Linked DNA regions of Homo sapiens: all the other regions are linked to region 1. The links come from fine-mapping of genetic effects on gene expression. A gene starts in region 1. Each other region holds a variant in brackets. All regions are shown on one strand. Distances are from middle to middle.

Evidence for each region. PIP is the estimated chance that this variant, and not a neighbour inherited with it, causes the effect. A credible set is the group of variants that fine-mapping cannot tell apart.
Region 2: its variant is the best candidate, but not a certain one, in a credible set for the expression of ADARB2-AS1 in spinal cord (GTEx, PIP 0.64).
Region 3: its variant is the best candidate, but not a certain one, in a credible set for the expression of ADARB2-AS1 in spinal cord (GTEx, PIP 0.90).

The regions. Positions count from the first base shown.
Region 1 is chr10:1,523,333-1,529,394 of GRCh38, forward strand. It overlaps ADARB2-AS1 (ADARB2 antisense RNA 1), which reads left to right and starts at 3,298. Exons shown (of 2, transcript NR_033387.2): 1 at 3,298-3,567. All of the region lies in intron 1 of ADARB2 (adenosine deaminase RNA specific B2 (inactive)), which reads right to left.
Region 2 is chr10:1,547,633-1,553,694 of GRCh38, forward strand. The region is part of intron 1 of ADARB2 (adenosine deaminase RNA specific B2 (inactive)); the gene reads right to left. All of the region lies in intron 1 of ADARB2-AS1 (ADARB2 antisense RNA 1), which reads left to right. Among named protein-coding and RNA genes, the nearest start is that of ADARB2-AS1, 24 kb to the left of the region's middle. RefSeq lists an enhancer at 4,572-5,099. The variant A/C (reference allele first, on the strand shown) is at 2,572.
Region 3 is chr10:1,718,513-1,724,574 of GRCh38, forward strand. The region is part of intron 1 of ADARB2 (adenosine deaminase RNA specific B2 (inactive)); the gene reads right to left. Among named protein-coding and RNA genes, the nearest start is that of ADARB2, 16 kb to the right of the region's middle. The variant A/G (reference allele first, on the strand shown) is at 3,092.

The sequences.
Region 1 (6,062 bases):
CATAGTCTCCACCCCACTGTGTTACAGATCAGGAAGTTGGAGGTGGCTCGGTTACAGGGTTAAGTTACATGCACGTCACGCAGCCCTGAGCTGGGGAAACCAAGAACAAAGCCCCTATGCTTGCTGGGCCATCCCACCCCCTCACATTAGATTTGCTTAAAGAACCTGCCAGAGGCTTCGTCTGGAATAGCACCTCGGTCTCATTCATCTCTATCACGAGTTTCTGCATTTTGACCATGAGCCTGTTCCAACATTTCAGATTCTCCACTCATCATTAAAATAACTTTATTCCAACCTTGCAGCTTCCAAATTAATACTGACTCTTTCCTTATCAGAAACAAGCAATGATTTAGAGTATCACTGAAATAAAATCAAAATGTTTTACCTTGAGGCTTAATTCTCTCTAAAATCTAGTCAGATGCTCCCCATCCCAGTTTCACCATTATATCAGCACAAATCTTGAACATTTCATTTTCTAATCTGTCATCCTTTTAATCTCCTATTTTATAAATGCTCTTTTCTGTATAAATGGCCTGCATATTATAAACAGTATTGAATAGCTTGTTTCTTTCTCTAATCAACCTGATCTGTCTACTCAATATCCACCCATGCATCCATCCATCCATCCATCCATCTACTCATTCATTCACCTATTCATTTTTTAATTAAGCATTTCATTAATTTATTCAGCACTTACTATATTCTAGACAGTATCCTGGGGATATGAAGATAGATAGATAGATAGATAGATAGATAGATAGATAGATAGATTAGAGAGAGAGAGAATAGATGATAGGTAGATAATTCTTTGTCACTATCTTTAAGGTACACAAAATTTTGTAGGAGAGTCTGAGACATACAAACTTCTTATAATACAATGAATGTATTTGGTGCAATAGAGCAAAAATAGGGTCAGGACTTTATGACTACTAAGCCTCACAGGTGTTTTGATGCCTATGGAATCACCACATATAAGTCCCACTAATTCAGTCGCCATTTGTGACTAACGTGTCCAATACTCAGTAGGAAAGATATAAAAGAAAATAATTAGAGTTCCTTAATATCTCTTTGGTCCACCAGCAGGCATCCATGTTTGTGATCTTCTGGGCAATTTTCAGACCTGCTGGCATCACAAGTTCCTCCAACCAGACTTGGATAATGGGTCAATCAGCAAGAAGCACTTTTCCTGAGCCCAAGTTCTAAAACCTCCACAGCAACAGCCCTAATGAAAAATGTAGTATCTCCCACTTCTCCTTTCTATTGCCTTTTTGTTTGGTTTTCACAGGAATCTATTTCTGAGTGTTTGCTGTAGGCAGACACTTTCCTCATCTCCACCTTTGATTACGAGAACAGCACAGCCCGGTGGCTGCCCGGGGGGAGGTGGTAGGCAGGGTCAGAGTGCACACGCGCGTGTGTTCATGTGTGCTGTGTACAGGTGCTGTGAGGGTCCAGGAACTGCTGGCTATCACAGTGAGCGGTGACACAAAGGCCTGTAATTCTATGTTGAGAATAATATTTCCAGCCTAGAACTAGCAGTCTGGCTGGAATGAAATACACAGAAAATAGTCAGGATAGTCCAATCTATGTCTGAGCCTCCAGATTTAAAGATAGTTTATATCCACAAATACATACTGCTATGTCTTTTTACCTTTCCATTTTCACAGCTAGCTGCCAATTTAAGTAAGCATCCTTGCTTTAGTTAAGGGCTTTAGTAATAAAATAATAATAATAACTTCACGAACAGGAAGAGATTCTATAAATCCTGAGTTTCATGCCAGGAAACCACCCCAGAAAACACTTTTTGTACTAATAGCTGTAAAAAAAGGTCAGGTACCTGACTTAAATAATTGCTTTCCTTTTTGTATGTTTGGGGGAGGAGGAATTTCTGGTTCTACTTGTAACACGTGCATATGAGGTTACACAAAGATTTCTTTCCTGGAAAACTGGAAATAAGCATAATCAAAACTGTAAAATGATCAAATACTGGTGCAATTATTTTCTTCAGGAATCTCACGATTTCATCTGCGGGAGTGGATCTGAAATCTAAAATCTGAAAACATTTATTTCACTTTATGATTCTTTTTATTCCACATTCTTCTCTAATTTTTTCCTTGACTGAAACATTGGTATCTCTGTTTCTCATGGTCTCTCTTCGCCTCAGCCGTGCAGTTCTGTGGGTATCTAGGGGGCCTTTTCAGTTCAAAGTACATCAGCAGCCCGACGCTGGTGGTCCACGTTTTCCTGTCGGCTCTGTGGGTTGCATCTGTGTCCTGTTACCTCGGAGGGGTTGTATGTGCGTCCTGAGAGGAAGACAGCCTGGGAAGACAGGGTGGCTTGCAGAAGACGCCCACCATTTGCACAGAGCTAGCCGAGGCAGCTGGCCTGAACATGTGTGCATGCGTGTGCGTGCATGTATGGGTGTGTATGTGTATGCTCATGTGCTTGTGTGTTTATGTGTGTGTATGTGCGTATGTGAGCATGTACGTGTGTGCGCATGTGTATGTTCATGTGCTTGTGTGTGTGCGCGTGTCTGCGTGCGTTTATGTGCGTGTATGTGCATGTGTGTGAGCGTGTATGCTCATGTGCACGTGTGTCTGTGTGTGAGCACGTATGGGTGTGTGTGCGTGTGTGCTTATGTGCGTGTGTGCATGCATATATGTGCATGTGCATGTATGCACGTGTTTGTGTATGTGTGTATGCGTGCATGTGCATCTGTGTTGAGGGGCTGTTGCTCAGGAAGCGAGGGACAGGGCATGTCCTAGGTAGAGACAGCTTTCTGGGGAAAGCCTTGTTCTAAGGCAGCAGGGCGGTCTTGCACTTGCGCGGCTGCTCCTGGGATTTGGAAAGGACACAGGTGGGAAGTTGGAGAGATGGCCTGGGGCAGGTGGGGTAGGTGGGGCAGGTGGGGCAGATGGGGCAGGTGGTGCAGATGGGGCAGTCATTAACGAGCATGCCTGGAACCCCATCCCTAGTCTTGTAGAGGAGGCAAGGAGCTGTCCAACTGTCTCTTAAGAGTGGCACAGTCAGTGCTATGGTTTGGAGGTTTGTCCCCTCCAGATCTCATGTTGAAACGTGATCCCCAGTGTTGGAGGTGGGGCCTGGTGGGGGATGCTGGGGTCAGGGGTGGATCCCTCACGATTATCTTGGTGCTGTCCTCCTGGTTATGAATGAGTTCTTGCTCTGTGTGTTGCAGTGAGAGCTGATTGGTAGGAAGAGCCTGGCCCCTCCCACCGCCTCTCCCACCACGTGATCTCTGCACAGGCCGCTCCCCTCCCCATCGGCCACGAGTGAAGCTTCCTGGGGCCTCACCAGATGCAGATGCTGGTGCCACGCTTCCTGTACAGCCTGCAGAGCCATGGCTGCACAAACCTTTCTTCCTCATAAATCACCCAGCCTCGGGTGTTCCTTTCTAGCAACACACACGGACTGAGCCGGATGACATGAAGCAGCTGTTCCCGCCTCCTCCTGGCACCTCCCTGACTCACGCACTTGGTGCGTGGAGGGGTCGTGAGCGGGCACAGGCAGCCACTTCGCTGCTTGCCTCATCAGCCTCACAGTTCCCCACAGGTGAGTCCTGGCATAGAAACATCCCCTGCATCTTAATTTGCATTTGTTAATAATTATGTGAAATAGAGAAAATAACTTATTTGTGCACAGCTCTGACTTCCAAACGAAACCACTCCAGCTTTTTGGAAGCTTCCGCATTTGGGGATGATATTAACCAAGTGACCACAGACGAGAGAGGCACTGCCCTTCTCTTTAACCCAGAAACTGGTCAGGAGCCTGAGGAGAATGACAAAGGGAAAGAATTCTTACAGGAACTTCTCCCTCCGCTTCCCTCAGTTTAAAACTACAGTGCTCGCCACAGAATCTCACTTCCAATTCCTTGTGGAGAACTGCTTCTTGTACTTATCGCATCCTCATTTACGATATGACTCTGCTAGTATTTTAAATACATGTCTAGCGTTCCTTATAGAGACATTCTCATCCCCACATAGATCGGTGGTTATGAGGGAGTTTTCTTTCCTATGCCTAGGATTCTGTTTTGATGATTTTTACGGGGTTTGCTTACAGTAGTAACTCAGCAAACTGCCTGATGATATTTAAAAACTTCTTCCTCCTTGATTTTCATTTTAAATCAAGCAAACACAATAATCCACAAAAACTAAATTAAAATCAATGCCCTTAACATGACTGGCAAGAAGAATGCTGTTTCTGTTGTAAGAAGACTTGCTATACATAACAGGATGATTAGAAAGACTTGCTGTAAAAAGACTTGATATACATAACAGGATGATATACATAACAGGATGATTAGAAAGTTAAAAATATAATATTGTGAGATGCTATTTGGTTTGGTAAGACGGGGGTCAGATAGTCTATCAGAATAATTTTCTTCCGTTTGATCACACATCTCATCAGAGGAGCAGGAGAGCCGTCCAGCGTGAGATATTTGAAGGGGTGTTGGCAAGAACATCAGATGGACGACAGGGGAGAGGGGCCCAGCTGCACGGGGAGAAGCCGATGAGGGATGGGTCTTTGCTGTCATCAACATTCATAAATTTATCATTCTGGATGCACAAATTAAAATTATTCACTAAGCAAGAATGCCATTGAACTGAACGTTATAAAAATCCTGGAGTAAGTAGAAAAATGCCAGGCTGATATATCTGTGCAGTAAGAGGCATATAATTCTGCCTCCATCAATAACAGCCCCCACACTTTATGGACTCCCCTCTTGGAGGTGGCTGTGAATAACCCGAATGCATGTGCAGCCTCTCGACAAACTCGTGTCCGCGGCTGTGGGCTACGTTCTCGCCAATGGCTGTGTCTTCGGCCAACACACCTGAGCTTACTGCATTAATGTTACTGTGCGATACAGCAGCTCCGCGCCTCCTGTGAGTGCCCGTGTTCACTTCCTAAACTGCTGGTCTACCCAGATTTTTAAAGGGACATATCAAATACTGTTCCTCCATTTCTGGTTCCTTTCAAGCTGCGTTGGTATCGATGTTTGGAACCCCTGGCCACATTTCATATTTATGTAACTGATCTGACAGTGCACGTGAATCTATGAGCAGTTACTTATTGAGTCCCTGCTGTATGTGAGGCTCTCAGGAAGGACTTATGGATGCGCCAAAGTACTGCTGATGATAATGGTGTGAGGAACACACTTTTACTCCTGTTTTATAGAGGTAAACCGTGGTATAGAATTTCACGTTACTTGTCTGAGGTCTTTGGTCATCCCAGCAGCGCCCGGTGTGAGCCCTCTCAAGTTCTCCATGGTTTTCCCATCACCCACACCCCTCCTGTCATGCTGGTTGATGGCACTCTTGCCCGTTGGGTGAGAAAGCCCTTTCCTGGACAGGTGATGCCCTTTGTAGTGAAAACAGTTAGATGCTGTCATGTTTGGTCAGAAGCTGAACCACAGATTTTAGAATGAGGCAATGATGGCCTGAGAGGGAAGTGGATTCTGTTGACACCAGCAGAATGTGTGGAATTGGGATTTTGAAAGTGTATTTACCCAGTGGCATGTGGTCCCAAGCGGGATCTGCCCTCTATGAGCTCCAGACTGGACTCGTCCTGCCCCTGTGGTCTGTCCCTTCCTAGGTTCCCACGGTTCTCTCTTTCCCCACAATGTAGCTTTGCTTTGGACTAGTTTTTGGGACAAGATGTTGCTTGTGAGGTGGGTCTGACTGCAGGAGCCAAGCAGCACCACCCCAACAAATCCTCCAATCAGTCCACCCACCATGCCCAACACCAATCCTCCAATCAGTCCACGCACCATCCCCAACACAAATCCTCCAATCAGTCCACGCACCATCCCCAACACAAATCCTCCAATCAGTCCACGCACCATGCCCAACACCAATCCTCCAATCAGTCCACGCACCATCCCCAACACAAATCCTCCAATCAGTCCACGCACCATGCCCAACACCAATCCTCCAATCAGTCCATGCACCATCCCCAACACAAATCCTCCAATAAGTCCATGCACCATCCCCAACACAAATCCTCCAATCAGTCCATGCACCATGCCCAACACTGCGAGTCCCCCACAG
Region 2 (6,062 bases), 24 kb after region 1:
GCACTGTGGGGAGGGGGAGAGAGGCTGTGCAAGTCTATGCACTGTGTTGGGGGCAGAGGCTGCACTGGCGTATGCACTGTGGGGAGGGGGAGAGAGGCTGTGCAAGTCTACGCACTGTGTTGGGGGGAGAGGCTGCACTGGTGTATACACTGTGGGGAGGGGGCAAGAGGCTGCACAGGTGTATACACTGTGGGGAGGGGGAGATAGGCATTGGTTTGTCATTGCAGGACTGATCTGAAGGCCAGAGCCAAGACTCAGGGCAGGGCTGTTGGGAGGCCCCTGACAGGCCTGGGAAGGCCTTGCCTGGTCACAGTGTTTTGTGGGCCTGAGGATTCAGGACACGTGGTACTTGCTTGACCATATAGTTTATTTTAATAATGGAATTATAGAGAATTTCTGTTTTCCCTCTGGGAGGCTGGAGTCTGAGCTGCTGTGGTCTGTCACACAGACACTGCCTCCCTAAGTGACTGACCCTCAATAAAAACCTTGGACGCCGAAGCTCAGGTGAACTTTCCCAGCTGAACCTTGGACCCGGAGGCTCAGGTGAGTTTTCCAGCTGGTGTCATTGCACACATTATCACCATCATTTCTGGGGGAACTAAGCCCATTCCCGCAACTCACTGGGCAAGGATGTCTGGAGGCAAATGCCTGGATTCTCCTTGTTGTCACCCAGGCTCCCCTCCCTTCGCTGGTGACAATTTGTGGACTTTCACAATGTTAAACAATGGCTGCTGGTGCGCCAGCCCTACCCAGTGAGTACCAGTGAGTACAGAGCCTGAGGGGGGTTTCGGGGACCCCCGGCATAGCCAAAGACCCCTTCACTGACATGGTGAATACACTGTGTAGGTCCAGAGACAGTGATGACAAACTAAGTTTCACAGACTTTGAATTTGGGAAGGCCAGTGAGATATCGCAGCCAAGATACCCCAGAGGCAGTGGAGCAGGGTGAATAAAGTCTCACTAGAGGGTCAGATTTGGCAAATGCGTGGGTTGCAGTTGAAGCCACAGATGTGAATTGCCGTCCAGTAAGTGTAGGGGGAGTAAAGATCTAGGATAAGGAGAGAAAGAGAAACTGGCACTGACAGAAAGAAACAGGAAGAGAAAAAGCTGACAGAAACTACATGGAACCTACCACACTCAAGGGAGGTTGGCTAATGGTGTCACGTGATGCCAGGACACCTGGCGAGTTAGGAACCTGGGAAGAGTTATTTTGTGACCTGGGCTGACAGTTTTATTAAAAGGGACAAGTGAGTGGCCAGAGTGTGAGGGGCCGAGGCAGGCCTGGCAGGAATGAGGGTGGGCTGTTAAGGTGATCTGGCTGGGCCACAGGGGCGGGGGAGAGAGGCGTTGGTTTGTCATTGTTCTTGAATTAAGCATGTTGAGTTGCCAACTACAAGATGCTAAAAGAGAGGGAGAATCTGAAGACGTCTGAGGGGAACTGCAGCCGGGTTTCAGTACAGGGTGGGAGCAGAGGCTGGCGTCCGGTACACGGAGTTCGAAACACTAGGGGGGAATCACTTTAGCTGGGGGGTCCCCTCCTCTCTCACTGAAAGGTGGAGTGGGGTGGGGCGTGGAGCTGGGGGGGTCCCCTCCTCTCATTGAAAGGCGGAGTGGGGTGAGGCATGGAGCAGACATGGCTGAGTGTGTAAGTTGGAACTCAGCAGGCAAACAAGTTTCCTCAAAAAAATTCGACTGTCTCTGTTTAGCAGGGACACAAGGCGCTCTTTTTGAAAGCCCTGGGAGTGGATGGATTGTGATTCATCTTTGTTATTTGATTATTCCAAAGGTATATTTGTGGGAGAAATGCAGGAAGGAAGGAGGGAGACGGGAGGAGGGTGCAGGGGTGAGCAGGGTGCCCGGGGTTGGTGTTTCCACCCAGTGGCATGGATTTGTCCTGATTGTGCTAAGAGAAGACGCTGCCTCCTTTTCTTCCTCCGAGACCCACGCATGGTCAAACAGTTTAAATAAGAGGCGAACGCAATGCAGAGCACGGCACTGAGAGAGCTGCGTAAGAGAGAACGCAATGCACTCTTCCTCCTCATTGTCACAGAGTTGGCCAAACCCATTGTCCCCATCCTCTAGACTCCAAAACCGATGCCCTGGAAAGGCAGGAGATATCACAGGGTGCCCAGCGGGACAACCCGATCCCTGTTCAAGCGTGGGAACCACCCCAGACCCTTCCTTCCAGCCAACTGCGATCCCGGAGAGACGGCAGCCAGGAGAGCCTCTCACCCCCTCTCCTGGGTGCTGGGTCTGCAGCGTGAGATTAGATGGAGCTCTCTGTGCCCATCCAGGAAGCCTTGAGTTTCTGTTAATATGCAATACAAGCTTACAATAGAGGGAATCCCTCCAAAACACAACACACCATATTGTTTATAAGAGGCTACCAGGGACTGAAAAGTAAACACAAAAAGACAAACAAAGTCTTCCCTACACCCAGCAGGGCCAAAGAGATTTTTCCCTCTTTCCAATAAGCTCTGAGAAATGGGGTCCCTGCTCCCCACACCACAGCCCACACCTGGAACCCCTCCCCGCTGCAGGCTGCCCGGCCACCTGCTCCACTGTACTCGG[A/C]AAACACACAACTACATTTTGTTTGTTTTCCTCTCTGGGCCTCTGATCGAATTTTTAAGCACCTCCTTGTTGCTTTATTCTCCCTGAATTTCCTGGAAGTGCTAACCTCAAAGTACCACGGAAAATGCCTTCCTAGAGTACCTTTGGCCTGACACGGCGAACAGCAGCTATTTTCTGAGAAAGCTCATTCTTTGGAGAGTCTCAGTGTAATTGCACTGATTGTGCTGGCTCTGGAAACCTCAGAGCCACCATAGGTCTTTGAAAACCAACGAATATGAGTCAACACATTTTTGCAGCTAATGACGCTCTCTAGTTGATGAAAGCCGATGGCCCACATGGCCCAATTTACCACGATTTACTGGAGATATAAATGGCATGAACCTCAGGCCCCTTCAGGGAGGTTGCAGCCACACAGACCGACACTGGAGAGGTTTTAGTGTAATGCAGTCTCATGGCTTTGGAGTGAAAGGAACTGATTTTGGAATTTGTTAGGGTCGTGGGAGCTAGAAGAGATTTGGAGACCAGTAGATACCTCTGTTGTACAGACAAGAAAGCCACAACCCCGAGTGCTTAGTCATTTGGCAAGAGTGAAGGTGAAGAGATGGTAGATCTAGAATGCAGAGTCTCCGCCTAACGGTCCCCGCGCTTCCCAGGCCGCCGTGCGAGCCCTGTTTGTGCCGCAACAGGAAGAATGGTGTGGAGTTCGGAGACTAAAGGTGCACTGTGCTTTTAAAATAAAAAGGACGGCAGAAAAGGGGCTGTTCTGGGCTGTATTCGGCCCTGTCAAAATTCACACGTGGAAACCCTGACTCCCAGGACCTCAGAAGGTGACAGTGTTTGGAGATGGTGTCCTTACAGAGCTGATGAAGATAAATGAAGTCATATGACTGGACCCTGGTCCAACCTGCCTGGTGTCCTTATAAGAAGAGGAGATGAGGACACAGACACACACAGAAGGAGGACCCTGTGAGGACACAGAGAGAAGACGCCATCTGCAAGCCATGGAGAGGCCTCAGGAGGAACCAGGCCCCTGGACACCTTGATCTCGGGTTTCCAGCCTCTCTGACTGTGACAACGTGAATGTCTATTATTGAAGCCACCTGGGCTGTGGTCTTATGACAGCCCCAGGAAACTTATAGGAGCCAGCTAAATTATTCTCCACTTGCTTAAGAGAGGAAAACCTGTTGTCCGGGCTGCCACAGTGGTAAAGTCCTTCTCACCTTCACCCAGACAGTTTCTCAATGATCCAGAAGATGCAAAAGAGGCAGGCTCGAGCAGGACTGCACTGCCAGGAGCAGGCCTCACACTTTCCCTTCCTGGGCGGCTGTCCCTCTGCCCGCCCTTCCTGCCATCCCTCTATTGTAGAACTGGTAAAACTTCCATTATTATTTTTAAAGCAAAAATAAAATAATTTTAAGGTCTTTCTTCCAATGACATCTCACCTGGTAACCCAGAAATGAAACAAGAAAACAGAGGGAGCACCTGAGGCGCCAGGGCCTGGGATTGGCTCCAAAATCCCCTTCCTGCCCCTCTGGTGGCCGATGGGCCCCAGGTCCAGCGATGGCCAAATCGAAGGTCCTGCCGGGCTTCCGGCTCTGAATGTCTCCGGGACACAATGTACCAAATAGACAGGTGCTCTGAGAAGTGAGGGCTGAGCTGGGCTTGTCAGAATGTGCTGGGAAAGGCAGACAGAATGGGACTGACTGGCCTTTATACTGCAGACATGGAGTCCTGGCCTCAGGAGGGGCAGCGTGGCCACCCCAGGGGGGCGGAGTGAGGTGAGTGAGGCTGAGCGGCTCCAGGTGGCCTCCTGCGTGGAGGCCAAGCCCTCCTCCCGCATGTGGCCTGAGCCTCCTCCCTCGCAGCCGATCACAGAACCATACAGTCCCAATCCTGCCACCAAGTCATTATCAATCAGGGGTTAAAGGCTGCTCCTGGCCACTCCCACTCCGAGCAGGTGGCTCTGCAGCCCCCAGGATGCCCATGGGGGGAGCTGGCCTGGGGCCAGGAGCCTTTCCTTTGCAGCTCATGGACTGCACTCCAGGGCAGCTGTGGCCTGTGCCGTGTAAGTGGATACAGCCTCGGGTTTCACTGCACGCTCCCTCCTCTCTGGCTAGTTTGGGGCCCTGTCCTTGGGGCATTAGGGGCATGAAATGCCTGCAGACCCACGGGTGATGCCTTTTAGAGAGTGGGTGAAGAGAAGTGGGAGGCACAGCCCCAGTGCTCACCCCAGGGGGCCGGAGGGAGCAGGATCTGTGTGTTCACCCCACAGTGGCTCCAGAGAACATGGGCGGCTGTCCTGCCTGGCACTCAGTGAGGGGCTGCCAAGGTCGGCTTCAGGGAACAGTCAATCAACACATCTACTGGGGACAGGAGGAGGGAGGGAAGGGGAGAAGAGGGCGTGAAGAGCCTTTTTCTGGCCTGGTCCTGCCCGGCACTCAGCGAGGGGCTGCCAAGGTCGGCTTCAGGGAACAGTCAATCAACACATCTATTGGCGACAGGAGGAGGGAGGGAAGGGGAGAGGAGGGAGGGAAGGGGAGAGAAGGGCTTGAAGAGTGGCCCTGGAGTCAGAGAGCACCTTCCTCTGGCCTGGTCCTGCCGGACACTCACCCCTGGCGGAAATGGAATGGATCCTTGTGGTCTTGGCAGGTATTTTATTGGCCTAGATTTTCTGTATGTTTTGGTTTTTACCTCCTGTGGAACGGAACCCTTAATTAATTCGTTTAGTCACTCATTCAGCAAATGTTTGTCAGGATCTTTGAGGCAGAAACTGTATGTCACCCCCATGGTCTGTGCCCAGTCACTGTGGGAACATCCTGGGACATGGGGGGAGAGCAGTGTCACCCGCAGCTCCCTGCCGGAGACCCTGCCCCATTGCTGGGAGCACCGCGTCCTCGCAGCCCAGGCCAGCACCATCTCTGAATGCTACCAGACACCAGGTGGCTCATAACATTGGGAAATGACTGTTTTAATCGTTAATTACCAAAAAAATGTCACTGTGCTGGTACAATATATGCGGTGATTTCTGTCATAAATTGACATCTGTAAGTCATAAATTGCTTAGTTTTAGCTGCTTTTAATGGCTGAATTTTCCCAAGCTACATGGTGCACACATTTTGGATCAAGTTCAAACTCTTCTGGCACCGGGCGCCTTCTGGGAACTGGCATGGACGAGGCAGGCAGCGGATTCTGACGGCGTCAGCAGCGCGAGAGGCACCCGACCTCTCACTAAAACGTTTGGCCTGCTCCCAGGAAGAGGCTTCCATGGAAAGCCAGAAGACCCTTTAATCAGAGAAGATTCTAGCCGGTCTCAAAGGAAGGATGCAGTTTGCGCCGTCGAAAATGGAAATCAAAGGAACGCGATGCTCTAACGGACTCGAGGAGGCCGGCTCCGTCTTGGCATTGTTCAGAAACATCCCGGCTTCTTCTCTGTTTGATTTCCAACAGGTTATTCCCAGAGGAACCACAGTCCTTTCTACCCAGAAGCCTAA
Region 3 (6,062 bases), 200 kb after region 1:
CACAATCGAGTCTCTCTGCAAATGCTGGGCTGTCCTGTACCTCCTGCCCCGCCTCCATGTCTGAGCATTGCCCCTGTGGGAGGAATGAGACAGGGAGCGGCGTTTAGAGATTGCAGCTGGCAACACGGCTCTGAGCATCCCTAAAGCAGGGGCCAGGGTCTTCACGGCTGCTTTACCTAGGGGGGCAGCACGACCCAGTTGACAGGCAGAGGCCAGGCCCCCAGGTTGTGTTTCTGACTCTGCCCTCCCAGGAGGGGGCTCCAGGCTCTGGCTTCCAGCTCCCAGGCAGGTTCTTGTGGCTGGGACTGTCCCTGAGCCTCTCGGCAAGATGAGAGACTTTGCCTTTCCATCTCAATTGATTGTGAATTAAGGAACTTTGGAAATTTACCTCGATTGTAGTGGTCAGATTTTCCTATTTTTCTTAGCTGTATAATCTGCCTAAAAGTTTATCTTTACCTTCTTTTTGTTGTTGTTGTTGTTGTTTTTTGAGACGGCTGGAGTGCAGTGGCGTGATGTCAGCTCGCTGCAACCTCTGCCTCCCAGGTTCAAGCAATTCTCCCACCTCAGCCTCCCAAGTAGTAGCTGGGATTACAGGTGTGTGTTACCATACCTGGCTAGTTTTTGTATTTTCAGTAGAAACAGGGTTTCACCATGTTGGCCAGGCTGGTCTTGAACTCCTGACCTCAGGTGATTGGCTCACCTCAGCCTCCCAAAGTGCTGGGATTACAGGTGTGAACCACCATGCCTGGCCCACCTTTACCTTCTACAATGCCCAGGGCACTACAGTCTCACACACTCCTCTATTCTCTTGCTCTCCAAATTGGGATCCCATCATTTTACACCACTGATTCTTCTCTCATGAAGTGCAACATTTCAAATCTTTGGATTTCAGAAAAAACAATGCCTTCTAAATTGAATATATGATATCTATAGAATAAACTAATTTGTTCCCTAGCTCCATTGAATCAGAAGCATTTTATACAGTGGCCTTTTGATAAAAAATTGCTAAAAGAAACAAAACCAAAAATTGGCAAATGGGACCTAATTAAACTAAAGAGCTTCTGCGCAGCAAAAGAAGCCATCAACAGAGCAACAGACAACCTACGGATTGGGAGAAAATATTTGCAAACCATGTATCTGACAAAGGTTCAGAATCTATAAGGAACCTAAATAAATCAACAAGCAAAAAACAAACAACCCTATTAAAAAATGGGCAAAGGACATGATCAAACACGTTCTCTAAAGAAGACAAACATGCGATCCACAAGCATGTGAAAAACATTGAACGTGACTAATCATTAGAGAAATGCAAATCAAAATCACCATGCAATACCATCTCATACCAGTCAGAATGGCTATGACAAAAAGTCAGAAGGTATCAGATGCTGGCAAAGCTATGGAAAAAAGAGAATGCTTATACACTGTTAGTGGGAATGTAAATTAGCTCAGCCAACTTTTCCAAAGACCTAAAACAGAACTACCATTCAACCCAGCAGTCACATTCCTGGGGGTATACCCACCCCCCACCAAATAAATTGTTCTGCTTAAAAGACACATGCACTTATATGTTCATCGCAGCACTATTCACAATAGCAAAGGCATGGAATCAATCTAGTGCCTATTGATGGTGGATTGGATAAAGAAAATGAGGTCCACATACACTGTGGAATATAATGCAGCCATGAAAAAGAATAAAATCATGTTCTTTGCAGCAACATGGATGCAGCTAGAGGCTGTTACCCTGAGAAAATTAACAGAGGAATAGAAAACCAAATACCACATGTTCTCACTTATAAGTGGGAGGTAAACACTGAGTATTCATGGACACAGGTATGGGAACAACACACACTGGGAACACTAGAAGGGTCCGGAGAAGAACAAGGATTGAAAAACTGCCAGGTACTATGCTCACTCCCTGGCTGAGAAGATCCTATACCAAACCTCAGCGACACCCAATTTATTCAGGGAAGAAACTCACACATGTTAACTGAATCTGAAATAAAAGTTGAGTATCCCCTGAATCTAAAATAAAAGTGGAAAAAAATAGGTTAACTTGTAGATGGCAAAAAAAATTGCCAAAAGAGAAATCTAGGGGCAGTCTTTATTTGAATATTTAGCAGAGTAATCGGTATTGTCTCATGGATGATGGGGTGAAATGGGACATTATTTCTACTTTGGCCCACACTGCAGGAGCATGCGGGGGCCTCTGGGCCCCTGGACACGTGGAAACCCTGTGGCAAAACATTTGGAGGAGCAGGAAGCTCACTCAAGGCAAATTTGGGGGCAGCAACTAATATCATATGGAAAAAGAAGAGGAGCTGGTATAAAAGACGTTTATTAACGTGTGTGCCCGATGTCCTGGCGCCACTGGCTCGCTGCAGTGCTTCTGTCTGGAAGGTTTTCAGAAAGCAAAGGCACCCACCTCCTCTCCCTGCACAAAGCCGCTTTGAATGTGCATCTTCCCACTGCTCGGATGAAGATGATTTCAAAAATGGGAATTCAATTGTGGAACTTTATGAGGAAGAATACAGTTAACATAACTGAAAACAAGGCCAGCACTCGCTTGAAGGAAATGCAGGAAGAGATTAATTTGACAAACCTGCATCTCCAGCTCAAGTTTGGCCTTCCTCTGCTTGAGGGGATGTCAGCAGAAAGAAGGGCCCTGGCCCCAGCAGAGAAGTTAATTCATCATCATCAAAATTATGTAAATAATTCAAGTCACTTTTTAAAAATAAAGCTATAAAGAGAAGAATACAAACCAAAATATTGCAAGAGGTGACATTTTGCTGTATGTGTTCAGATAAGACCAAACGAATGTTGACGTTGACATAAAATAATTCAGAAAGAACAAGTATCAAACACAGACTTTAAAAGTACCACCTTACTGTCAGCGTGTTTTCTATATTTTCCCAAGTAGCTTTCACCTAGTGGGATTCTATTTATACTGAATTAGGTGGGCTTGCTGTGTGCATACACATCACAGGGAGTGCAAAGACACACACACGCTGGACACATTAGTGTTAGGTACACAGATTGCAAGTGATTTCTGTTGGAAGTCAATTGGGACTTTGCACAGGAAGGTATTTTACAC[A/G]TAAAGAATTTTATGCATTATTGCAACGGCAGCAAAGCTCACAAAAGCCCATTTAAGCCAAATGTACAGAGGGCCTTGTGTGGCCTCAGTGTCACATACAATATTATCTCAATGATGTGTCTGTTCTGGACTGAGCTCTGGATCTCAGGGACACAGCATTTGTGCTTTCATCTACCCTCAGCCTTGGCCTCATCCCAGCCCTTGGTCAGTGCTCCTGGGGTCCACAGGACTGACTGGAGAGGGGTCCAGAGAAATCGTCTCCATCTGCCCCCTTGTCGAAGTTCAGCGGCATGAGAGCACCCCTCATTCCTGGTGATCAGAGATTGATACTTACTGGCTCATTGCTAATAAAATGCCACCAAGAATCGGGGATTTGTTTACTATATTTAAAGGTTTAAAATGTTTAACTATCAGAAGTCCTACCTGTGAGTGTTTATGTAAAACGACTTTATAAGTAAGATTGGGAACAGATGGGAAGAGCTATTTTAGTCAGTTGGTGTGTCATGAAATTGTGTAGACTCTATTTCACTGTAAACCCTTCGTTACACTGTGGGGGTGCTACAACGTTACAACATGTTTTCTTGGGAGGGTCGCACTTATTTAACCTTTAAATTGACATTTGGGGCACTGGTCACTTAGAGTGAGTTCAAATGTCCTGGCTATTATTGTGCATGCAGATTTATTTCTGTAATCTACTTTTCATTCACTGACTTACTGAGGTTAAAATAGAACATGCACATTTACCTGTGGCTTCAATTCCACTTTGTTTTACCAGCACTGACTCTGAATCAGTTAATCTAAGAAGTGACTTCTTGTTTATGCAGGCAAGTGGATGAAAGTATCCTCTACACAAACACACAGGGGCACACAAGGGAACGCAGTAGGTCCTCATTGTAAATCTACATGCCCGGTAACCCAAAGCATGAGTATCAACCTGATAAGCACACTTTGTAATTTTCAAATTTAGTTCCGGGTTTTATCGAATGAATAATGTGCTGTATTTCATTCCGTTTCTTGGTAGCACATCAACTTCCTATTTTTTCTATTCTTCTCTTGGGAAATAGAATGAAAAATTCCCTCACCCCTCGTCTTAATTCATTGCATTCCTTAAAGATTTTTACCTTGTGCTGTGATTAATAATTATTTTGGAATTCAATGTACTTATTATATAGATATCTGAAAAATGAAGACGTTTGCCTATCTGAATCTAGTTCAACGACCTCTGCAGTTTCCTTTAACCCTCAAATCAAAAACGTGTATTACTTAAGCAAGCAAAAGCACAGTGGAGTGTGCCTATACATACGTGTATATTTACCCATATTCATATACATGTGTACACACACACATACACGCACACACAGGTGTGCACATACACACTAAGGTGTCCTATATTCATATTCATGTGTACACATGCACATACACACACATGCACACACAGGTGTGGACAACACATGTCACTAAGGTGTGAGCTGGGCTGCACGCTATTCAGTATCTCCCTGGAAACGGGAGCGCATGCCCCTTCTCAGAAGGCCCTTGTGTGTCATGGTCCTATGATGTAGCTTTTACGGCCACTGCTAACACACTGTTTCTGAGACTTCTGTTTTAACAGCAACATGGAAGAGCTTCCAGCAGTGTCTTTTCTAAGTGGCGATTCGCTCTACATTGCCCAGAGAACATCTGCTCCTGAGTTTTGTGCTCCTGTCCTCTGGGGACCTGAGCTCTCCCCGTGGCCTTTCTGAACCCACCTGTTCAATCCTGCTCCAGGGCCTTGGTCCCTTCTTAAGCAAAGAACAGCCGGTGGGGCCGGAGGGACCAGGCTCTGATTCAGGCTTGCTCTCACCATCTCGCTTTCTTCGGTAGCCACTTGCATTCTTTGGGCCTCACTTCCCTCATCCAGGAGATAGAGACACAGTTTAGTTGATGGTGTCTTAGGTCCTTTTTACCTCCCCATAAGAGAGTTATGAAGCAGACCTTATCAAACCTGGGAAAAGAACTGTCAGCGAGAAGTGAGAACGGTCCGCTTGCCACCTGCACAGGGGACAGCAGCCCTTCTTAGAATCACCACGGTTCTCTCCATCTTTAATGAGAAATGGGCACCTTCCAAAGGGCCAGGAAGGGAGAAATCAAAAGGTGGAATGAAATAAAACTACTTACCTTCTAACCACCCTGTTAGAGGGCACCACGTGGCAAAGACATCAAGGGGAACCTAATCAGAGGTTAGTTCAATTCCAAAAGTATTTCTCACCCTGGAGACGTGATGGTTTTCTAGCAGTGATGCTACAGGGATGAAGGTGGGATTTATGAATTTTCTGGCCCTTATTGAGGTAGAGATAATGTTTCTGGGAAAAGGGCACTGATACCCTAACCGTAAGCTTTAGTTTTCAGAAAATGTTTCCGAAGGTGAATTTCTGTGGTTTTCTCTCTGTCATGGGCTGAATGGTGTTCCCCCAAAATTCATGCATTTAAGTCCTGACCTGTGGTGCCTCACAGTGTGACCATATTTGAAGATGGGGTCTTTAAAGAGGTGCGCAAGGTAAAATGAAGCTGAAAACATACAGCTGAAAAGCGTGCAGCCAAGATTAAAAGCACATGCATGTGCCTGTGTGTCCTCAGGACTGGGGCTTTTTCTGCTGCTGGCTTTTCAGCTGCACCCATCTCTGCATCTGGCCCATACAGAACCATGAGGTGCACAATTCTTGCCTGGCTAATTATTCTAACTGTAAAGAGCTGTTATCTGTGTCCTGGTGGTGTCGAAGGACACTCTCACAGGATCAGGTGAAAGCACTCTTCTCCCTGAGAGGTCAGGGCACATAGCCTGCCTGGTTTATCTTCGTTCCCAAGGGACAGATGCACCAAGCCCCCAAAAGCATCTCCATCAGAGCCAGTCCCCCAAACCCCAGCAGCCTCGGAGGCTCCTTGTGTGCGCAGCAGCAGGAGGGCCTGCCTGTCATCCTGGGTCCCCGACAGAAAG